Linked DNA regions of Homo sapiens: region 2 is linked to region 1. Evidence: fine-mapped expression QTL. A gene starts in region 1. The other region holds a variant in brackets. All regions are shown on one strand. Distances are from middle to middle.

Region 1 (8,340 bases):
TAAATTGGGAAGTTTGCTTTCCCTTTTCCTCAGTATAAACAATATGAAATCTGGCAAGTACAAATGCAAAGAAAATTTAGATTTTATTCCTGTGGGTTTTCTTTAAAATACTGTATCCGTATCCTCATTCCAATCAATAGATTTCAGGTTAAACAAAACTTGAAATATGAAACTCACCTAGCAAGAGAAAAAAAGAGTGGAATGAGGAAGGATTTGTGATTTTTAATTAATAATTATTTTAAAACCAAAATAATTAGAACAAGTCTGCTTTGCATGCAGTAGTACTCAAGATACTGCAAATTATTTTGTTTGGTACAAAATCTGCATGTATTTGTTAACTGTATTTATGGGCACACATCCTGTTCCTGCCAATCACCAAGTACTTTGGAGTATTATTTTTGTGGATGATTTTCTTCCTTGTCCGAAAAATATTGACCATTTAGGTAGGTATTATTAATTTATTGGAAACTATTTTTGAAAGTAGTAATGTAAGATTCACTCTCATTCTGCCATGATCATTTGAGTTTATCAATGCAGAACACGTCTTTCTTTAAAGTTATTCTAGAGCTGATCAATATTGTCTTATATTTAGACACTGTCTTTTCTCTGATCATCTTTAAACATATCACACTTCCGTTCTTGTAGAACACACACATACGTACACACACACAAACCTCTAAGATCACAATCCCAAAATGTATGTCTACTTATAACATTTCATGATATTAAATGTTAAATTTTATTTCAAAAACTATCACAGCCTAAAGGGAAATATAATTTAAGCATTAAGATAGTACATTTCAGAAAATAAGCTAGTATTTTCATGTTACATTTTAGGTACCTATCATTTGTCATTCCAAGAGATCCTTGCGTTCTAGACTCTAGAATTAAATGGGGTAAAGGGTTATGCTTTTAAGAACTATAAGCTGAAATGATTTACTTCAGTTCAATATAGAATATTTGTCAGTCAAGATAACAATCAATGTGTACAAAAATTTACATAACAAGAGGAAAAATAGGCAGTGCAGCACCTTTAGAAAAATAATTAAAAGTTTCATTGCATTTACAGGTAAGTGCCACACTGAGAATTTACAATACAGTAATTTACTGCAATCACAGGGGAGTTCCATAAAGAAACAAAGCTCTTACACTCCAGGTTTTTGGAAGGTGTTATTGGAATGCTTAACTGAAACCACAGAACTTGTATATCCTTAGGATTGAGTTGATGAAGGTCATAAAAGGTTTTCATAGCATCTATTATATAAAAGGAGTTCACTGCATTTGGATAGCTGGTTTAGTGTCTCTGACAAGTGTGAAGCCTAGAAGAATTACTGGCTTGATGGTGATCTTTCTGTATCCGGCAAGACAGACCTTCTCCACAGTAACAACGCTGGAATATTTCTAGTCCATGAGAGCCTTTTCTCCTATGCTTGGTACACACTTGACCTTCTTTCAGGACAGGTTTACAGATCTTGGACCAGAAGTGTCTAGCACAACACAATCCTGAGGCACAGTCTGATGACCGGAGACAAACAGAACCTTCTTGTCCTACGAAGGAGAAGACAGTAGGAAAAAAGTACATAGTTACTGTTAAACCTGCATCGTTTCACTAAAATAATTCAAAAGACACTTCTGATGTGCTAAGAATGAGTCTTAACATCCTTACCTTTGGTGTGATACATTTTTGAAGACAAGGTGGTTCTTCTGGAATACCCATCCAAGGTGCTATGATCATTACCAAAGCTTTCAGTGATGGTTTCCTCAATTTCTCCTCGGAAATGATTTTGATCAGAAGACACACATATTCCTAAGGAAGCAGGAAATAGTGATTAACTTCAGGGTTGTAATGCATTACTGCTAACAGCTGTGACAGTGGCAGTCTGTTATGCCAGCATCAACTTGAGATACTTCATTGCAGTGACATCATTTTAAACACAAGCCAAACTTCCTCTTTACTGTTAATGCAAAACTCTCCAGATGGACAGAAGCACCAATGTGTATACTGTATACAGTCAGTCATAGGTAATATCCCCAGTATAGCCATTTAAAATACTTTCCCACCAACTGTGGTAGGGGCAAGTGAGATTTCTGCCCATTTTAATATTACCTTTGGGGTAAGAAAAAGAAACTCAGTCACTTTAAAAATGTTCTTAAAAATAACTTCTCTGCCCCTGGTGCTATATGGGTCCTACCAGACTAAGTTAAGCAAATGCAATTCCAGCTGCCTGGAACATTGCAATCTCACCGGCCAGTTACTTTACTGTGTAATTTCTATATTACAGAGATTTACTTAGTTCATCCTGGAGTACTGCTGGGTCCTAAGGAGGGTCGTCGCCCTGTTAGCTTATTTCTGGAGACCTCTTTAGCTGTCTAAATCCACCTTTTGAAAAATTAAAAGTTAGTGGATCTGTGGTTGGGGGGAGGAGTACTTATATTAAGGCAGCAGAGGGTAGAGGGAGGGGGAAGGATGGAGAAGTCAAGTTGTGAGGGTACCAAGATCTCTCTTAAAAATGGCCAATGCAGATAAATCAGTCCTCTGGCTGACAACAGTTTCAGCAAAAATCAGAAGGCGAGGCCAGTCTGGCAAAACTGTGAGAATCACAATAAGAAAAATGAAAAGGACAGCTGAACGCCAAAGCTGGTTTCTTTGATATCTGTATGATCCCATCGTCCTCCTCATCATCCCCCTTCTCAATTGACCTCAAGGTTCTCCCCAGACAAATTTTTATGGAAGAGTCCACTACGAGGTGAACCGTTGTATTGAATCATTGAGGGACACGGAGGAAGATAAGGACCTCAGAGACCTCCCAACTTCTCTCTTCTTCCCGATTAAACACTTGCAATGAAGATACTTCAGCGGAATCCTGCATGCTGAACACCCATTTGCAGGTGGCGCCGCAGTGTTCTCAGGGCGGAGATTTCTCCCCCCACCCCCCCCAACCCCCCGCCCCCGCCCAATTCATAGACGCTCAAAGGCTGGACAGTTTTAGTGTGAAAGGGAGCTTTCAGGACTCACCATTTTTGCAGTAATTCCCGGGGCAGCACATAGCGTGACGCATGCAGCGTTTTCGGCGCTTCCTGCAGGCGAGACAGATTTGCACGCCTGCGTCCCCTCCGCGGGTGGGACTAGCGCAGTACTCATCAGTGCCGCACTCCTCGTCCTCTGCGCACGGGTACGGCTGTGGGAAGGGTTCGGGGAGAGGGTGAGGCACCCAGACGTCCAGGTACCCGCCCTCTTGGACCCGGGCGCTGATCACAGTCCTTATCTGTCCACCTCTCCAAAACCTGTTACTGCCCACTGCTCCCAAATGCAGGGTTACCAAATGCTCCCTGAACCGCACACATTCAGCACGTTCTACTCCCTCGTCTCCAGATAGGACCCTTTCAAGGTCAGAGCATCCTCTGAGTGCCCGACCCCTCTCACCTGGTAGTTGTCAATGGTCTGGTACTTATTCCCGCCCGGGTACAGGATTCCCGGCGCGGCGCTGACTGCAGAGCCTGGGTGCCCCGCAGCGCCGCCCAGCGGTGGGGGCAGGTTCTTGATAGCGTTGGAATTGAGAACCGAGTTCAAGGTGGCGCTCACTCCCAGCAGAGGGTGGCCGCCGAGAGCCGCCGCTACCATCGCGACAAAGACCCGGGTAGCTCCCGCTGCGCCCAGAGCCATCATCTCAGAAGGACTCAAGAGGGAGAAAGAAAGAGAAAATGACCGTCACTTTGCAAGCCTGGGTCCCCACGAAACCGTGCCGGTTCGGCTGCAGAGTCAGGGTCCGGGAGCCCCCTGCGGTCCCAGAGTCCTGACTGCAGGGAGCACAGAGCTCTGCGCCGCCACCGCCACCGCGGCTGCCTTTATACCGCGGGCCCGGAGCATTCCGGCCCCTTGGGAGGGAGACAACAAAGCCGGGATGGGATTTCAAAGCGCTGGGAGGGGCTGGGAGGGGGTGTGTTTGTGTACATGAAGGGGGGCCTTTGACACTCTTCACCCCGCCCCTCCCTTGCTTAGTCGCTCGGCTGGCCCGGCTCACCTTCGGGGTGAAGGCTACCAGCGAGCGTTATAGCAGACGACTTTAATAAATGCAGGCGGCAGCAGGAACTCTGGGAACTTGGGTGCCCTTGCCTGGCAGTAAGGGTTGAATTATCCGGATCTGAAATACTTTACAGAGCCGAGGGGTGATAGGCTCTGCAAAAGCACTTTTTGCCCCTCTCCTTTATGCCAATACTCGCTGACTGTGCACACAAGTCATATTCAGTATTAAATACAAACCGGTCTGTAATTCAATGGCTCTAGCAAGACGCCTCTGAGAGGGCCAGGTGGCGGGTGCAAGTTGCTCATTAACCCTTTAGAGTCGCAGTTTGCAGATCTGAGTTAGATCCCCGGCTTTGAGGTCCTTCAGTTGCCCTCCTCCCCCACCTCCCCCCGCCACTGCGAGAAAAATGTGCAAAGAGAAGGAAATTTGCACATCAAACGAGGGTAAGAAGGAAGAAGAGCTAATTCTCTTTTGATGGGAAGTTTAGAGAGGGAGGCGAGAGACTGGCGTTTAGAAATTAGATCAGGGGTGGAGGGAAGAGGGAAATGACCATCCGATAATCAAACCATTTAATGTTGTTCTTTGAATCAGGGCAATCGCGGCGGTAGATGAACTTGATTAGGCAGACGCGTGAGATCAAAGTGGCCGGGACCAAAGCGGACAGGGTCCAACGTGCCAGGTCAGTCGCCTTTCCCCGGTTCTCCCTTCTCAGTGGTGGGCTAATGTGGAGAAATAAGAAACCCTTAGGGCTTAGCGCCTGACTTCCTCATTAGTATATCACATCGCAACGCTTCCGAATGCAGGGTTTGCTCCCAAGTCTTACCTTGCACGGGACCACGCAATACCCTTTCTAGGGAGAAAAGAAACAACCTTGAGGAGAAGAAGAGCTGAAAGTGAATTAGAAAGTGAATTTGACGTCATTGAAATTGGTGTGTGGATATAATAAAGTAAGGCTGGTGTATAAGAATGATGTCATGCTTATAAATGGGAAATGATCTATTTAATTCAACAAAAACTTATTGGAAGCCTAGAGCCCTGGCATTGGGCTGCCCTCTGGGTTGTTACCTTATTTTTATTTTTTAAATTTTTTGGTGAGATGGGTGGTGGGGGGAGGGGCACAGTGAATACAAATATTTATGAGACACAGCTCTCATTTTAAATAATAAAGTTCTCTTTATTCTAATTACAGTAATAATAAAAGATGTAGTAACAATAAAATTATAGCAATAAATATAAAAGCATACATAATTCTTTTAAAAACAGGTTGATATTATAAGTGTCAGAAAATAAGCAACTGTTTTGTGAGTTTGGAAAAGGGAGAGATGATTGAATAATCACTATTGAATTAAAAAAGAGTAAGATATATTTATTTTGTCTTCCTCTAAGCTGTATAGATTTAGGCTGTCTATAATGACTCCACATGCTGACCTACTATAGTCAGAACTGGGGCCACCACCAAGTAAAGCCAGTGACAATCTTAAAGTAAAAAAATCCTAAAGTTTACTGGGAGAAGGAGTAATTAAAACACAATTTACTATGGTCTGTGTTCTAGTTCCTTCAGTTTCAAAGGTAATATTAAGAAGATCATCTAAACAATTCTTGAATGGTACCCTAGTTATATTAGTGTCCTTCCCATCCCAAATTCCATCTGTCCAGGAAATTATCCTGTCAGGAATCAATGCGTTAAGCACCTTCAGTGTACTAGGAAATCTGCAAGCTGTGTTAAGTTTGAATGACTTTGAAACGTAGAGAAAAATCCGCCTGCCAATCAGAAGGTTGAAAATGTTTCTTTTTAGTCCTATTAACCTGTTTAAATATTTTGAATCTAGAAATATATTTGTGCCACACTAAAGGCCAATCTCTTGCCTTTTTTTCTGAAGAGATAGTATATGATTAATACATTTAATGAACTTGGTTCATTAAAAGCTTGGCTTCACAAAAAAAATCCATTGCCTGGGGCAAAAGAAGAGAAAGTGGAACAATTTAATCAACAAAAGGAAAATTCTGTTATAACAAAGAAGCTTGTTGCATAAATTCAACCTTGATCTCTGAACACATATCATTTGTCTATTATGTTTCAATATTCACTGAGTCTGGACAGAATCTGTGGTATTGAGCTAGGAGAGCTAAACCAAGCATAGAGTTTCAAGAATGGGCTAGCTTCTACCTCCTTCCTCAGCTTTCACATTGCTCCTGAAGTTGTCATGAGTTTAAAACTAATAATGAGTTGGTCAATATCTGAGTTCCTACTTTGTGCTAAGCATTATACATGATATTGTGTGATAAAAGATGAGTTCACATATAATCTACCTTCAAATCATTTAGTGGGCAGAGGAGAGGTAACCTCACAAATTATTCAGGGGAGAAATTACATGGGTGGTCCTCAGAGAGGGCTAAGTACATAGCAAATCAAACCTTTGTTCCAAATGAGGAAATTTATTTTTTCAGTACTTTTTCTCCATTTGAAAATCCTTTCCAGGATGTGGTTTGTTCATTGGCAACAAGAGTGCAAGGTAGATAAAGAGGTATAGTAAAACTCATTGTTCCATCAGCAGCCAGTTAATATTCGGTGAGTATCCATTATTGGGAGCATATCTCACAATATGAAAGGCAGGCTTCTTGTCCTCAGCTTTCAGTCTGTGACTAGTTGGGGAAATACAACATACTTACATGGGGCTGGGGGTAAAAATTTTTCCAACATCGATTATATTTTGGCAGATACTAGGTCATGGAGAGCAAGAAAAATGTGCAGGAACTGTGACCAACATGTCTTAGGAAGGAGAGAGGGTTCTGGTGATTGTCTGAGTCTCTCTTACAGCTGGGTGACAGAGGAGGTGGGAGCCAGAGTAGATGAATTTAGTTTATTAAACTGAGTTTATTTAGTCCTGTAGGGAACCCTGCCTCCTATTCAGTCTGGTATAAATATGATCATAATTAATGTAACAAATTTAATATTTTGTATTATATTTTTGAATAGGTGAAATATGCTTATCAGCGTGGAATTGAACCTCATAACTCGGGAACAGCATGCTAACACATGTCTTCTTTATATTTTAAGTGCTGGATGCCATGCATAGAATATTTCTCAACCTTTTCATCCATGAGGGAGACAGACAAATATACTCCAAAACACTCCATGCTATTCACCAACTATTTTTCCATCTCTATTATTTGTGACTGCTGATTTTTTTTATTTTATATATTTTTATATATTTTTTGAGACAGGATCTCATTCTGTCGCTCAGGCTGGAGCACAGTGGTGCAATCGTGGTTAACTGCAGCCTTGACCTCCCAGGCTCAAGCGGTTCTTCCACCTCACCCCCAAGTAGCTGGGACTACAGCTGCATGCCACCACACCTGGCTAATTTTTAATTTTTTTGTAGAAACAGGGTCTCACTATGTTGCTAGCCAGAGCTGGTCTTAAACTCTTAGGCTCAAGTGATCCTCCCACCTTGGCCTCCCAAAGTGCTGGGATTACAGGAGTGAGACACCGCGCCCAGTCTACTGCTGTATTTTAAATTCCCTTCTTTCCTCTTTTCTTTTTTCTCTCCCTCCTTCCCTTCTTTCCTTCTTTCTCTTCATTAAATCAAAAGAAGCAGATTTGTTGCCATATAATTTTACTTTGCTAGGAAAATACCGCATACATATCATTCCTTACGGTGGGTGTTGCCAACATTTTTGTTAGTGTCAATCTTGAGTATAGCAGGGATTCCTCATTCCTGATGTTTTGTAAAAAATGATATGACTTTCTCATTGACTTTTAAAACAGTTTGGTCTTAATGTTCTTCATGATGTTAAAAGAACTTTTAGACCTGGTCCATGTTATGACTCCCCTGAGAGCTGGATTTTCTGCACTCCCCAGTACAAACAGAGGGCAAGATTTGACCGTGATTACATTTATTTGGGCGGTGGAGATGGCCAGCCCAGATAAATCAGGCTCCGTGGTAGCTTTCTAACCAAGCTCAGAAGATGTGTTTTACTGGAGTAAGACATTAAAAGCTAATCTGAGAGTAGAGGCTGGGTTCCAGCCTCTAAACCCAGTGAAGATAGTGCCTAACCAGATAGATATCTGCCTGCATCCTTTCTGAGGTCCTGACACTCAGAAAGGTCTGTGGTGGTGGGTATAGGGAGTGCAATGTCCTCTTTGAGTCCCCAAAGGATTTAACATCTCCAACCCTAAGGATAGGCCAGTGTCTGCAGAAAGCAAGATGTAGGATCCCATGACACAGTCTCCGCATCTACAGAAAAACAATTTTCTTCCATGTCACTGGGTTCCTATTATTACCTCCTTTATAAGACAGATCTTCTCCCAGGG
Region 2 (8,340 bases), 64 kb before region 1:
CATGGAGAAACTTAAGAAATGTGAAGTCTATCCAAGTCTATCACAATGGTTTCAAAGCTGATAGAAGGGGTACACCTATAGGGAAATTTACTGTAGCTTTCATCAAGGCTCTGAGGTTGAACTTGCCTGGTGAGGTTGCAGAGAAAAGGGAATGCTTATACACTGTCGGTGAGACTGTAAATTATTTCAACCATTGTGGAAAGCAGTACGGCGATTCCTCAAAGAGCTAGAAACAGAATTACCATTTGACCCAGCAATCCCATTACTGGGTACATATCCAAAGGAATATAAACCATTCTACCATAAAGACACACACAAATGTTCATTGCAGCACTATTCACAATAGCAAAGAAATCAAATCAACCTAAATGCCCATCAATGACAGATTGGTTAAAGAAAATGTGGTACATATACACCACAAAATACTATGCAGTCATCAGGAAGAATGAGATCATGTCTTTTGCAGGAACATAAAACCAAATACCACATGTTCTCACTTATAAGTGGAAACTAAATGATGAGAACTTACGGACACAAAGAGGGGAAGAGACGCTAGGGTCTACTTGAGGGTAGAAGGTGGGAGGAGGCAGAGGATGAGAAAAAATAACTACTAGATACTAGTGTTAGTATCTGGGTGATGAAATAATCTGTACAACAACCCTCCATGACACAAGTTTACCTATGTAACAAACCTGTACATATATCCCTGAATCTAAATTAAAGTTAAAAGAGAAAGAACTTTCTCTCCTCCACCATTTCTCTGCTTCTCTAGCTAGCTCTCTATTATCAGTATGAACCCATGAATTACCATTATTTTCCAATGAATTATAAGTCCTTATTGTCCTTAATTATATTGGTTTATTTTTAATGACAAATATTTGTTTTTAATTCTTCAACTTTAAATACATAATGACGATCACATCTTACATTTGTTGGTCATTCCACACTTTTAAATGTAATTATCCTTAGCATTTCCATGCAATTATCTAATGTTATCCTCTACAAAAGATGTAAAATTCAATGGGATTAGTGTTTAGATTCAAGGAAGTGTCTCAGTACAATTTCAAGACTCTAAATTAGTAACAAATTTCTTAAGATTCAACATTGATTGCTTTTTGAGCAATCACAAGAAAGAGAGGCAAGGAAATACCTTTACAGCCCACAACAGCAGAAGAACATTCAGCAACCTCTTTCCAAATACATTTATAGTTGCTATATTAGTTTTTATAGAGTTCTGCATTGTTGCAAATAAAAATAAATGTTTACATGTGTACTGAGTTAACACATTGCATTTGTATTGTTACAGATTCTTATTTGCTTTAAAAATAAATAAGATTTTGGTATATAAAAATGAATGCAGATGATTTCTTTATTTCTTCATGAGAATCAACAAAGTAGTTCTGAGGAATAAAGCAAGCAATGCTCTTTTCCTTAAATGTTTTGTATATTTCACCATTCAACTCTGGACCGTCTTCATTCTGAAAAAAAAAATTTTGCCGGGCATGGTGGCTCACGCCTGTAATCCCAGCACTTTGGGAGGCCGAGGCAGGCAGATCACGATGTCAGGAGATCGAGACCATCCTGGCTAACACGGTGAGACCCCGTCTCTACTAAAAATACAAAAAAAAATTAGCCGGGCGTGTTGGTGGGCGCCTGTAGTCCCAGCTACTGGGGAGGCTGAGGCAGGAGAATGGCGTGAACCCGGGAGGCGGAGGTTGCAGTGAGCCGAGATCGCGCCACTGCACTCCATCCTGGGCGACAGAGCGAGACTCCGTCTCAAAAAAAAAAAAAAAAAAAAAATTGTTATTTGGGGGAAATATCAAATACATTTTATTCAGGTATATAGCATTTTAATGGAGTTCTCAAAATTTGATCATATTAATGTTACCAACACCAAAATATTAATTCAAGACATTAAATAAATATGCATGTAACTGAAAGTGGATCATTATAACAAATTTTAAATAAAGCCCACAAATTATAAGATTGTGAAAGTTATATAATAAATGTATATATGTCAAAAATCATAAAAGCGTGGACATAAATTAAAAAAGTAGAGAATAACTGGTCCATACCTGTATGTCTGCAATTCAGGTAAAATTTCTATGGTGGCCAAACCCAAGAAGAACATGCCTCTCTCAGTCAGATTTAACACAATTGGTGTGATTTAGAGATAAGAGCTGAGTAATAAAGAAACTCCCGCTTTGGTAGTGTTTACACAATATTACTTATAGTCTATGCTGCTTTTAATCAGCTTTGAGTCTGCTTCGAGATTCATTGAAAGGCAGATTGTTAACAAACTGACAAGAAAACCCATCACAGTTAAATCACCCACCAGAGAAACTTAATTTCTTTCATGATCTGTACTTTCTACTTGCTCACAAAGATTCTTACTGCAGTCATTACACCCTAAACATTCCCAGTGTCATAGGCTATAATATTGCAAACAATAGGATTATGACCTCTTTCAGCAGGTTTCTTGCTAGATTGAAGCAGGAAGAGGAGACGGATTATATGGAGAAAAGGCCTTATTTGAAAACATTAATCTTCAGTAATTAGTAATTGCGGGAGGAAATACAATACATTAAAGTTAAGTTATCTTCTGCAAAAACCGATTTCAAAAGCTGATTGAATCTGACAGCTATCTCCTAAGATAAAACATCTACAAATGTAAAAGTAAAATATTAACAATTGTTCAGTCAGCCTCATATTAAAAAAGCAGAACCAGAAGGTTGTTTTCTTTAGAAAACAAATGTACATGCTGTGTGTATGGGTCTGTGTCTTTGTGTGTGTGTGTTTATTTTCTAGCTAAAATAAAATTAATATTTCTTCAGGTGCCAGGAGAATAGAAAAGTATCTGGACCCAGGTTATTGCTTATTTTCAGTGTTTTGGATAAACTTCCCTTTCTTATTATGAATGTTGCTCTTTTCAAAATGTATCGCCGTACATCACAAATACCCCATATTTATTCCTCTTACCTTTTATTTGTTTGTTTTATAAATGCTTCCTCTGCACTTGGGGGAAGACGTCCAATTGAACCTGTTAAAAACTGAATGCCACATGTTTTAAAGTAGCTAACAATAGTCTCATTAAAAATAGTCTCTTCAAAATGTGGAAGTATAGGTACTGAAAAAGATAAAACCACTAGCTGCTATATTTGCAATTTAAAAAAGGCAAATTCAAGATGTGTCAGATTTAACAAAGCTACTGCTGGGGGGCCAATTTCAGAGATAAAAGATAAAAGGCCAGCAATCCACTTTACCCCCAGCAGTTCAATGAAAGTTGTGTGATTCCTATTGCTTCATCAGGTAACTACAAAGTAGTTTCCTCCCAGTGAATTCTGTGTTTTTGTGGATTCTAAAATATCTGACTGTGGAATGAGAAAGGTTTGTTTGAGTATGATAAAGGATATCTAAAAACCCTTATGCTCAGTTCTGACACATAGCCATTGACAAACTAACACCCGAACTCAAACACTCATGTACCAAGCATAAGATACAGCACTTGGGAGTTTCCATCACTCACGTGAATTTGCCACTTTTTCGTCCACCCCCACCATCTGCCAATTTTTTCTTTCTCATTGCTTGTTTCAGTTTACAAACTGATTATCATAGTGATTCAATATTTTTATTTCCGTTTTGAAATTTTTTTAAGATTTTGAGCTGCATTAAGATGTACAAAACAACATAGTGCTTCTAATGATTTTTCTGGCAACCAAAGATTTATCTTTGCCGATCTCTTTAATTATTCAATTGTCAAAGCCAGGTGTGTATATGACTTGCTTACTTAACTTTTTATCTTCTAGGGAAGAGTCTGGAATCCTTACCAAGATATTCATTAAAATTGTGGACTGGAATGCACTCTTGTTTCTTTTGATAAAATGAGTTCTGTGTTCAAATAGCAGATGTAATGTCCAAAGACTGCATCATCGGAGATAGTCTAGGAGACGGATAGAAAAGTTGCAAACAGGTCTGTGAACTGCTTTGGTGGACACAGATTTACTTTGAAGATTTCACTGAATCATTTCGACTTGTAAGCCACTCATGGCACAAAAAAAGCAAGTTTACCAGGCAAACCTTAACCAGATACTAGCTACAATGGGGGAACCTCAACAAATTTAGATGTGCAGTTCAGATAATTCCCTTGAAAGTTCCGATAATTGCCTAAAGCTTATTTAAGTCTATGGAAAGACTTTACCATCTTCTTCACTCCATCTCATCTTTTCTTCTTTCTTCCATAATCCTCCCCACCCCTACTCTGATCTTTTTGTTACTCTCCAGATCACCCTACTTTAAATCTCTCTGTTTTATCCTGAATTTCCACCTCACTTTTGAAAAGACCCTTCCATGCTGGCAAATTCCTGAAGTCAGAATGTAGTAAGTTTCCTTGCCATGCTGTTTTCTTATGCATCTAGTGTTTTCAAGGGTCAAAAAAATTTTTTTTCTCGGCTCTTTGGAAAGCCAAGAAATGAAAAGGTGTGAGTCAGAGCACCTACCTTCCAAATGTTGCTATGAAAAGAAAAAATATATTGACTGAGCAATGGAAACATTCACAACTACCTGTAAATCTAATACATTTGTCTTGCCACTGTTTCAAAATGTCAAATGTGTAACTGTGAATACTGTTCAGTATTCACATTCATATAATTCACATTTGAATACAATATTCCTCACATTTAACTTTCTGAAATGTCTTACAATTGGTTGGGGGGAAGGGCACTGCCCTTTGATCTTCATGTTCAAAAACAGTCACCAAGACCTTGGAAAACAGCAGATAAGAGTCTTACCCTTCTGATAAAAGAAAACACATTTTAATCAGACTCAGTAACTCTCTCGTGAAGAATTAGCAAATCTTTGTGGACTTAAGCAAA[GT/T]TCCTGGGCTTTGAGTTCAGATAGTGCAGTCTATCAGCAAATAGCTTACTGTTAAACCTGTAAGGGCAGTTACATGTAATATTATTCATTCATTCAATCAAAAAACAGTGATTGAGTATCAACTGAACACAAATCAAACCCTCTCTCAAAAAACTTTTAATTCCACAATGGAGACAGGCATTTTCAGAACTATTATAATGCAAAATAGAAAATGGCACATATCCAAAGGCATACAAGTTGAGAGCCATGGTCATTCAGAGGAGAAAAGATCCCATCTAGTAGGAGGAAGGCTTCTCAGAAGAGCCAGCCATGAAGTGGGATTTAAAATGAATAGGTAAGATTTAAACATCTAAAAATGAGGCGGAATAATGTTGTAAAGTAAGTAACTAGATTTCATTGGAAAGCATAACACATACTAGGAATCAACTGATTTAGGTTAATTGGTACACAGAGTAATGGAGAGGAGTGAAAGATAATACTGAGTGTTAATACATTGTGATGTATCCCTGAGGCTGGGGGTGGGAGAGCCACAAAGTCAGGCTGGAGAGTTTGAATGGATTCAGCAGGCTGTATGGAACCATCAAAAGCTAATGACAGTCCGTTAATTTTTAATGAATTTTCAAGCAATGGGGTAAGAATTGTCTTTTCAACAAATGGTGCTGAGACATTTAGATGTCTATATGCAAAAAGATGAATTCATACATTTATCTCTCTCTCCATATAAAAAAATTAGTTCAAGATAGCTGAATCTGTATGTAAAGGTTAAAAATATAAAGCTTCTAGGAAAAAAAAAAAAAAGAAGAAAATTTTCATGTCCTTGGGTTAGGCAAAGAATTTTTAAATAGAACACAAAATGCGTAACAGTAAATTTTTATTAGTAAATTGGACAGAATCAAAATTTAACTTTAAAAATACCAGTAGAGAAATGAAAAGACAACACATTGACATTGAGAAAATATTTGGAAATAATAAATCCAATAAAAGACCATATCCTGAATAAATAATGTGTTCTTACAACTCAATAATAATAAGACAACCCATTTTTTAAAATGAGGAGAAAAGATTTGAGTAGAAATTTCATATAATAATGGCTAACATGAAAAAATTAAATGTAGCCTGGGCAAGATGGCTGAATAGGAACAGCTCCGGTCTGCAGCTCCCAGCAAGACCAATGCAGAAGGTGGATGATTTCTGCATTTCCAACTGAGGTACCCAGTTCATCTCACTGGGACTGATTAGACAGCAGGTGCAGCCCACAGAAGGCAAGCAGAAGCAGGGTGGGGCATCACCTCACTGGAAAGCACAAGGGGTCAGGAACTCCCTCCTCTAGCCAAGGGAAGTCGTGAGGGACCGTGATGTGAGGGACAGTGCTATTCGGCCCAGATACTATGCTTTTCACACAGTCTTCACAACCCACAGACCAGGAGATTCCCTCGGGTACCTACACCACAAGGGCCCTGAGTTTCAAGCACAAAATTGGGCTGCTGTTTAGGCAGATGCTGAGCTAGCTGCAGGAGTTTTTTTTCATACCCCAGTGTCACCTGGAACCCTAGCGAGACAGAACCATTCACTCCCCTGGAATGGGGGCTGAAGCCAGGGAACCAAGTGCTCTTGCTCAGTGGATCCCACCCCCACAGAGCCCAGCAAGCTAAGGTCCACTGGCTTGAAATTCTTGCTTCCAGCACAGCAGTCTGAAGTCGACCTGGTAGGCCCAAGCTTGGTGCAGGGAAGGGCATCCACCATTAGTGAGGTTTGGGTAGGTGGTTTTCCCCTCACAGTGTAAACAAAGCCACTGGGAAGTTCAGACTGGGTAGAGCCCATGCAGTGCCACAAGGACACTGTAGCCAGCCTGCTTCTCTAGATTCCTTCTTTCTGGGCAGGGCATCTCTGAAAGAAAGGCAGCAGCCCCAGTCAGGGTCTTATAGATAAAACTCCCATCGCACTGGGACAAAGCACCTGGGGGAAGGGGCGGCTGTGGGCCAGCTTCAGCAGACTTAAACGTTCCTCCCTGCTGGCTCTGAAGAGACCAGCAGGATCTCCCAGCACAGCGCTCAAGTTCTTCTAATGGACAGACTGCCTCCTCAAGTGGGTCCCTGACCCCGTGCCCCTGACTGGGAGACATCTCCTAGCAGGGGTCAACAGGCACCTCATACAGGAGAGCCCCAGCTGGAATCTGGCAGGTGCTCCTCTGGAACAAATCTTCCAGAGGAAGGAGCAGGCAGCAATCTTTGCTATTCTGCAGCCTCTGCTGGTGATATCCAGGCAAACAGGATCTGGAGTGGACCCCCAGCAAACTCCAGCAGACCTGCAGAAGAGGGGTCTGACTGTCAGAAGGAAAACTAATAAACAGAAAGCAGTAGCATCAACATCAACAAAAAGGATGACCATGCAAAAACTCCATCCAAAGGTCACAAACAACAAAGACCAAAGATAGAAAAATCCACGAAGATGAGGAAAAACCAGTGCAAAAAGGCTGGAAAGTTGCAAAAACTAGAATGCCCCTTCTCCAAAGGATCACAACTCCTCTCCAGCAAGGGAACAAAACAAGACAGAGAATGAGTTTGACGAGTTGACAGAAATAGGCTGCAGAAGGTGGGTAATAACAAACTCCTCTGAGCTAAAGGAGCATGTTGTAACCCAATGCAAGGAAGCTAAGAATCTTGAAAAAATGTTACAGGAATTGCTAACTAGAATAACCAGTTTAGAGAAGAACATAAATGACCTAATGGAGCTGAAAAACACAGCACAAGAACTTCGTGAAGCATATACAATTATCAATAGCCAAACTGACCAGGCAGAAGAAAGGATATCAGAGATTGAAGATCAACTTAATGAAATAAAGGGTGAAGACAACATTAGAGAAAAAACAGTGAAAAGGAATGAATAAAGTCTCCAAGAAATATGGGACTATGTGAAAAGACCAAGCCTGCATTTGATTGGTATACCTGAAAGTGAAGGGGAGAATGGAACCAAGTTGGAAAACACTCCTCAGGATATTATCCGGGAGAACTTCCCCAACGTAGCAAGACAGGCCAACATTCAAATTCAGGAAATACAGAGAACACCACAAAGATACTCCTCAAGAAGAGCAACCCCAAGACACATAATCATCAGATTCACCAAGGTTGAAATGAAGGAAAATATTTTAAGTGCAGCCGGAGAGAAAGGTCGGGTTACCCACAAAGGGAAGCCCATCAGACTAACAGCAGATCTATCTGTAGAAACCCTACAAGCCAGAAGAGAGTGGGGAACAATACTCAACGTTCTTAAAGAAAAGAATTTTAAACCCAGAATTTCATATCCAGCCAAACTTCATAAGTGAAGGAGAAAGAAAATCCTTTACAGACAAGCAAATGCTGAAAGATTTTGTCACCACTAGGCCTGCCTTACGAGAACTCCTGAAGGAAGCACTAAACATGGAAAGGAACAACCAGTACCAGCCACTGCAAAAACATACCAAATTGTAAA

What was found. PIP is the estimated chance that this variant, and not a neighbour inherited with it, causes the effect.
Region 2: its variant is fine-mapped to the expression of DKK1 in lung (TOPMed, PIP above 0.99).

Annotation. Positions count from the first base shown.
Region 1 is chr10:52,309,762-52,318,101 of GRCh38, reverse strand. It overlaps DKK1 (dickkopf Wnt signaling pathway inhibitor 1), which reads right to left and starts at 3,821. Exons shown (of 4, transcript NM_012242.4): 1 at 3,425-3,821; 2 at 3,017-3,179; 3 at 1,667-1,807; 4 at 445-1,548. The coding sequence starts at 3,667. The coding sequence ends at 1,295. It overlaps PRKG1-AS1 (PRKG1 antisense RNA 1), which reads left to right and starts at 3,974. Exons shown (of 6, transcript NR_038277.1): 1 at 3,974-4,468; 2 at 4,617-4,704.
Region 2 is chr10:52,373,334-52,381,673 of GRCh38, reverse strand. No RefSeq gene overlaps it. Among named protein-coding and RNA genes, the nearest start is that of DKK1, 63 kb to the right of the region's middle. The variant GT/T (reference allele first, on the strand shown) is at 4,872.